2 linked regions of the Homo sapiens genome follow. The protein of the gene in region 2 purifies or fractionates together with the protein of the main gene of each other region. This does not show direct contact. Each region holds a gene or a part of one and is shown on either strand. Other genes may lie near its edges.

Region 1 (3,823 bases), on a different chromosome or scaffold from region 2:
GTTAAATTCACTTTTACTAAAGATAAACATGACAAATTTGTACATTTTACATAAAGAATCAAATCATTGAGCAATAACCACTTTTAGTTAACATTACTCAGCTCTAGAATTTCATGGCTAGGAGAACTACAATTCTCATTAATTCTTATTAAGCACAAGAAAATGAGATTTTTTCAGAATGAAGTCTAAAAATGAAATATGCTTTACTTTCCAATTAACTATATTTCTCTATGGAAATTTTCCTGAAGATGCTTCCAATCATCTACAGTAATGAGAACAGGTCAAAGAGGAAGCCATAAATAACTTTAAAGGGGAAATATTAGAATGATCAAATCTTACACGTTATGAGTCCCACATTTCCTATGTATGCACAGATTATGCTCAAATTTAGTGTAATATGGAGTATTTTTGTATTAGCTTTGTTGTAGGGTAGATTATTTGAAGTAGGTCTGCAAAGGACTGCTGTAAATATCCATGGTGGCATAACAGTAATGTAAACATGAATGTGAGAGTGGCAGGAGGCAGCCAAATGCCTAGAGAGAATAGGGGTGGGTCCTTGGTGAAGCCCCACTTCCAAGCCAAAGACAGTTTAAAGCCTGAAAGCCAAGCTACAAATTAAATCCTTGAACCGGATTGAGAACTTGTCTTCCTGTTTGACTCAATTTCTTCTGATTGATCCCCACCCTTCACCTATTTTACATACACCTACCCTTTCCTAACTGGTTTTCTACACTGTTGTGCCCACCATTGAGTGGTGTCTTCACTTTAACCTTTTTTACATACTCACAAACCAATCAGCATGCACTCCCCTTTCTGAGTCCATAAAAGGACCTGGACCCAGGCACATGGGGCACTTTCCCGCCTTTGGGTAGGGGAACCACCCTGCACTGCGTCTCCTATTTGCTGAGAGCTTTCCTTTCACTTAATAAATTTTACTCCACTCACTCTCCAGTGTCCACCTGTCTAATTCTTCCTGGTTGTAAGACAAGAACTTGGATCTAGCTGAACTAAGGAGCACAAAGACCACAACAAATGTAACAGGGACACAACTGTATGCACAGAGCAGACAGCCAGTCAGTACTTGCTAACCTACCTGTTACAGCTAAATCAATATCCCAGGGACTATACATGTCAGGGAACAACAGGTAGATTTCCTGAATTAGATTCTTTTCTTTAGGCATGAAAAAAGATCATCTATTAGTAAAGCCCATAGCTAGCCCTCTAATTAGAAATTTAACACAGATTAAATGTCCTTGTAAAATTAAACGAATTTCACTTTTTGACATTTATTAGATTTATACACAATCTAGTGTTTTACAAAAATCCAGCACTTAATAATAAGTTATTAGACTTAATGAAGTAAGTATAATCAGAATCCTTATTGATAACTCTCTCTACCAAAACATACTTTGACAATTTATGGTGGAGAAGAAAAGACTCATTAATTATCTGTTTATACTTCTGCTAATTGTAATCATTTAAAGTTGTTTGATCAGTATTTTTATATATGGCATTTATAATCAACTATAGAATCTTAAACTTACAAGTGAGAATTCTTTCAAAAAATTTCAAACAGAGCCCAGATTAATAATTTTTTGTTTGGAGACATCAGACCTTATCTATGTTTTAATACACAGCACAAATATACACCAAGAAAAATGACAAATAACCACATCATTAACATGCGCTTATTGAAACAACTACATAGCTGCACACAAAAGAATAATATTTGTACTTGTTTCCTTCCTTAATCTCTGCAGCATTATGAAGTAATATATTATAAAGGAAATCCTTTTTATTAATTAATGAGGAGGAGCAAATAAATATATTTCTATTGGCATTAAAAACTAGATAAATTTTTACCATTCAAAGGATTGCTACCTGAGAATATGTTTATGTAGTGGCATTTTGAATTCTTTTTATTTTTTAAATCCTATTTTTAAAAACTGCTAAATCTACAATACTGGGCTTGAAAATCACAATAATCAAAGACATGATTGTTCTGTGCACATCTGCCTCCTGTACACTTAGAGACCCTGCTCTGCTGACATTTTTTTCTGTGATTTTGTTTTTCTCCTAGATAACCTTCATATTCTGGGCATCAGCACAATCCTCCAAATCCCTTTTGAAAACAAATGCATCCTTATTGCTACGGCAGCCACTTAATCTAGACACAAATACAGCTATATTAGGTGCACTGTAATGAAAAGTGAGGTGTGTATTGGGGAGAATTTCCGAGGTTGTTTTAAAAGCTGTTTAACATTACACAGTGGTTATTAGTTTTTAAATAATACTCCATAGGAAATGCCATGCTAGCTTAAAAAGGGGGTAGAGCAATAAAAATGGGCCACAGTAACAAAAGCAACTGGGTGGCTTTTAGATCCCAAGGGTGGATAAAAGAAAAGGTTTCGAGCGAATAGATTGTTTATACCTACAAAAAGCAAGGTCTGGTCTGGAGGAAGGTATATAATAGGATAGCCCCCTTCATACTCCAAAAAATATTATGTAGTCTATTTCAGACTATATACCTTTACAAATTATTGTCTGCATAATTATGCCCTCAATCTAATTTACTTAAAATATATACCTTCAAAGATAACTGAAGGTAGAGTATTAATAATTATTAGGACATTTAACCCTGAAAGACTGGGTTCCAAGTAAACATAAAAAATTATTCCATAAGCCTGGCCAACATGGAGAAACCCCATCTCTACCCAAAATACAAAAATTAGCCAGGCGTGGTGGTGGGCACCTGTAATCCCAGCTACTCAGGAGGCTGAGGCAGGAGAATCGCTTTAACCTGGAAGGCCGAGATCTGTACCACTGCACTCCAGGCTGGGCGACAGAGCAAGACCCTATCTCAAAAAAAAAAAAAAAAAAAATTCCACAAACCCTTACTGCAATCTGAAGAGGCAGAAACATAGATATGAAAGACAGTGAATCAGAAAAGTACAGGGAACTTCTTCAAGTCAGTCTAAGCCAGAATATCCTGTATTGCTCAGGCAGTGGAGGAACAAGAGTCTTACAGAACCACACACATTCTCTACATTGAGAAATACTGTACCCTGACAGAAACCTGTCTCCCCATCCCAGCCAGCCCATGCCTGAGAGAGTGCCATGGACAGAGGTCAATGCTTCTCTTGGGAGTTCTCTTTTCCCTAGGTATGCTGGGAGGGAGAGAAACAGTAACACAGAAGAAAATACATATTTTTTAAAGGTTAAATTCTAAGCCCTCTGTAATCTCCACTAGAAACATGAGTATGCAGTTCACAACTGAATTTGCCCACTTAGTATCACAAGTGTTGCCTCTGGCAGTTCTTCCAGAATATTAAGAAAAACTCTGAGTTTTCTAAAATAAAAATAGCAGATTCCACTCTTCTGTCTGATGGGAAAGGTATCTACTAGTTTGTCATCTCTCTTAAGGGCCTAGAAAATTAATTTGGGTGGAGGAACACACAATGAGTAAATTTGGTTTGTTTCTCAACCTTCAAGTACTCAAGAAAGATGCACAGGGATGCATCAACAAAGTAATAAGATTATACACATTTTGGATCTTATATCTTTGAGTGAGTGTCAGTCTTCAGAAGAGTCACCTTATAAGAACTGTCCACTCATTTTCATGATGCTCAGCAGACTCCACAGATTCTTCTTTCGTAATAAACTTCTGGGGAAATCTATTTTACTACATGATAGTAACGCCTTATGTTAAGGAAGAACCTTAACTTTTGACACAACTTAGTATCTTGCTCACTTAAACAGCTCTGAACTACTATCAAATCTTTATGAGTAAAAGCATGTGATAGATACTGAAATTGAAATAGGA
Region 2 (3,823 bases):
TAAATTAATAACAATTCAAGGCAGCCCATAGTATGTGACACACAGGTGCCATATGAAACAAAAACAAATCGTAACAGTTCAGTGAGGGGAGACATCACATCTAGTTAATGCATTGGAGTAATGGCAATTTTATGGAAAAGGTGCCATCTGACTCTTGATAGCAAGAGGAAGATAGGAAGAATTACATGAACAAAGGTTAACAGAGATGCAAAAGTGAAAGCATGCCCAGGGAATAAAGAGATTTTAAAAAGCAAATGACCAGTAGTAGCTGAGCAGTGAAAGGGGGTCTGTGAAGAATACTAAAGATCATTTGAGCAAGGGCTATTGGGAATCATTAAGGAAATTAGTGTCAATCTCATTCTCATCTCATGTCATATGAGTCTCGACACTCATACACTTAAAATTGGCGGTGCCTCATTGGCACTTGATCATAAGTGGTAAGTATTGTCTTTCTAGTAATGCTGTCAGTTTCTTGAAGATGGGAACAATGCCTTCTTTCCTTCTACCATTAGTTCTGGAAGCAAAGCAATTCAGAAAGTATTTGATTGAGGAGCTGGGAGGTGTTAGGAGACCAAATGGGTCAGACAACAGGGAAGGGCTTCGGAGTGACAATTTTGACTTGATTACCTGAACGAGGAATCCATACTCCAGAGTGGGAATGTTCTTGCAGTGACCACTGACCTGGTGAGAGTAAAAAGACAGACCCCGTGAACCTCCTATGAAGCTGGGGCCTAGACAGACCTGACTCTTGCCTATCACCTAGGACTCTCCTAAAGCAGCTAAACCCTAGCTCAGAATCCCGAAGCTAGAAAGGAGACTTTTAGACATTTTTGCCAAAGGTTCTGGAAAGGGGCTCACCTGTCCTTAACCCTCCTTCAAAGTAGATGGAATAGGTTAGTACAGCAGCTACAGTTAACTACAGTCCTACTCACAAACTAATAAAATCATACATGACTTCTCCTTGAGATTCCCATCTCCAGACTCTGTGCTTCATGGCCTATCAGAGAAGCTCGCTAGACAATTTAGACATAAGTTTTCTACTGTTAAAAAATGTTTTCCAGCTGGGAGTGGTGGCTCGTGCCTGTAATCCCAGCACTTTGGGAGGTGAAGGAAGGCGGATCACTTGAGCTCAGGAGTTCAAGACTACCCTGGCCAACATGGCAAAAGCCCGTCTCTACAAAAATATGAAAAATTAGCCAGTCGTGGCATGTGCCTATAGTCCCAGCTACTTGACAGGCTGAGGTAGGAGGATCATGAGCCTGGGAGGCAGCAACTGCAATGAGCAGAGATCGCCACTGCCCTCCAGCCTGGATGACAGAGTGAGACCCTGTCTCAAAAAAAAAGAAGTGTTCCATTCTACTCACTCATGGTACATACCTAGGTTTGATTTATGATGCCTAGACAACCATATCCCCACCCCATTTTGAGAAACTACACTCCCACAGTTCCACTCCCACCCTCCTGATAGCCAAGTCAAACCCTCCCCAGCCCATGTACCAAAGGAGAGGTCCGTGCTGGGGGAGGGAGGCCCACGTGCTGAGGGCACAGGAGACCTGCCTGGGGGCTGGGAGGGTAGCCAAACACTTCCACTTTGGGGTTCTTCATGGTACAGGAGATGGAACGGTTCATGAGGCGCCCAACCCGAAGCTCTGGTACACCTAGTTTGCCTTTCAGCATGGAGTCCTGTATGATAGGGAAACTGGGAGACCTGCAGAGAGAGAGCAAAGAGAAGTGATAAAACTGGGGATTTCATAGGATCCCTGGAGGGGACTGGAGATAAGTGAGCCCTAAGCCAAAAGTTCTAAACTAAAGAAAGACAAACTCATATCTGAGGAAAGTTGCATTGTATCTTAAACACTATTAAAACAAGTAGATCACACATCTGAATTAAAATTTTTATGTCATCATCTGTGGGTTCTTCACATTGGGACACTGAGGGTGGGCAGAGGCAGAGGATAGGTTATTATGTTTCTAAGCCAAGTATGGAATAATCCCTTGGAAAGGCTGCCTGTTTTTCTGAGAGAGAGAAAAAAAAATAGAGAGAGAGATTGTTAAACACTGCGCTAGGCAAGAAGTAGTTGCATCCCAAAGGGCGTAATATTGACTATCTGACTGTCAACAATGATTCCTGGGAAGCTACAAATCTGGGTTTGTGTCTGCCTTTGGGAATATCAGAAGACACCACAGGGGGAAAATGTAGACCTGGGGTCAAAGAATGGAGCAATATTTATTTCCAGAACCTAGCAAGGAATTACTGCCTGTTCTCTGACACTTTCTTCTTAGGATGGGGAAACGGATCAGGACAAAAGAACAGAAAGATGGAAGATTCAGCATACATTTCTCCAAATACATATCACGAGCTAGGTATTCTGTTTTACATAAAGGATTAGGTATTAACCTTGGATAAGGAGTAGAAAGGTAAGGACACATAGGGAACAGGACCATGTGAGTGGTGTCAGTAGTTAAAGAGACAGAATTCAGGGAAGAGAGGGGATAGAAACATTTATGTAATCAAGAAGGTGGGGGTGGGGGCTATCACAAGGTGTTTACAGATGATCAGCTTTAGGGAGCACTTACTTGGGGATGGGTGAAAAGATGCTGAGGCCAGCTCGGAACTTCTTGATGGTACCACTTGCCTTGAACCAACTGTGCCTCTTCTCCTGCTGGGTCTTCAAGAAATCATTGCTCAGATGTTTCCATTGTTGGGATGTAAACATACCCAGGATCCTGAGGGATCAAAAAGAATGAGCTTAGGCAAGATGAGGCAGGGTCAAGAAATAAGGACTAAAGAGAGACAAATAATCTAAAATTCAGACCCAAGGACTGCAAAGCTAGTTGTGGTAGGGGAATGTGTATCTGAAGACCCCTTTAAATGACCTTAGTAAATAAAAAAATCACCATCCCAGAGCACCCCTTCACCCTAGAGGGCACCTAGCCTAATGGCCAGAAAAATTCAGAGATGCGTTGCCTTTAGAGTGAGATTTCAAAGGTGAGCCTTCAAAGGCTGCAAACTTTGAAATCTATTGCCAAGAATGACTATACTGTTGACAGGGAAACAGAAGTGGTAGGATGGAGGTGAGTACCACTTTGTTCCTTGTGAGTCATGAAGAAAGGGAGTAGGGACATAAGGGGTACTGACATTGTTAGGAGAAAAATTATATTCTCAAATTTATGGTTTCCAATTTGAGCTGCGCCCTTAGCTAGATTTGTCAATCCTTTCACTTGTCCTTGATCAGTTCTCTCTAGCATTACTCTAAGGTATTGTTCTAAATCCTTATTACCTTCTTTAAGTTACTAACTTCATCTACAACCAAAAACCTCTCTTCCTTCTTAAGCCATCAGGTATCAGTTCCCTTAATTTTCCAACCCTACTATAAAATCTACTTACATTTCCACCCTACCTTGATCCCTCCATTCTCTGGAGGTAAGGTGACCCTTCTACCTAAGATCAATCCTTTGATTGCCTTTTTAGGGACCATGATGTGTCAATCATTCCCCTTTCCTGTCAGTTCCTTTCCCAAAGTCAACAAAAGATGTCAACTTTCTGCACCTTAGTCTAGTTAACCTCTCCCTGTTGCCTTCCCATCCCCATACAAATTTCTCAACCCATACTCATTGTTTCTATGTTGTTGCCAACCACTCACCTCCAAACTTTCTGTATTCTGGTTCCTACCTTCACCACTATAATTGTTCTCATCCTGATGCTAAATCCGATGGAAACTCCCAGGTTCTTCTCTTATCTTCTCTGGCATCTGGCCCTCCTTGCAGAACCTGCCCTCCTTTGTCTTCTGTGCCACCATTATCTTCCTATTCTACTCTGACC

What was found.
Region 1: the proteins of PARP6 (region 2) and ANKMY2 fractionate together in Homo sapiens (co-fractionation; one large-scale study listed by BioGRID). This does not show direct contact.

What each region holds. Positions count from the first base shown.
Region 1 is NC_000007.14:16,611,059-16,614,881, forward strand, and holds part of ANKMY2 (ankyrin repeat and MYND domain-containing protein 2), read right to left. Parts: intron 2,215-3,823; exon of another isoform or gene 2,081-2,214; intron 1-2,080. UniProt on the Homo sapiens protein: May be involved in the trafficking of signaling proteins to the cilia.
Region 2 is NC_000015.10:72,258,981-72,262,803, forward strand, and holds part of PARP6 (protein mono-ADP-ribosyltransferase PARP6), read right to left. Parts: intron 2,728-3,823; coding exon 2,578-2,727; intron 1,709-2,577; coding exon 1,498-1,708; intron 682-1,497; coding exon 628-681; intron 1-627. UniProt on the Homo sapiens protein: Mono-ADP-ribosyltransferase that mediates mono-ADP-ribosylation of target proteins.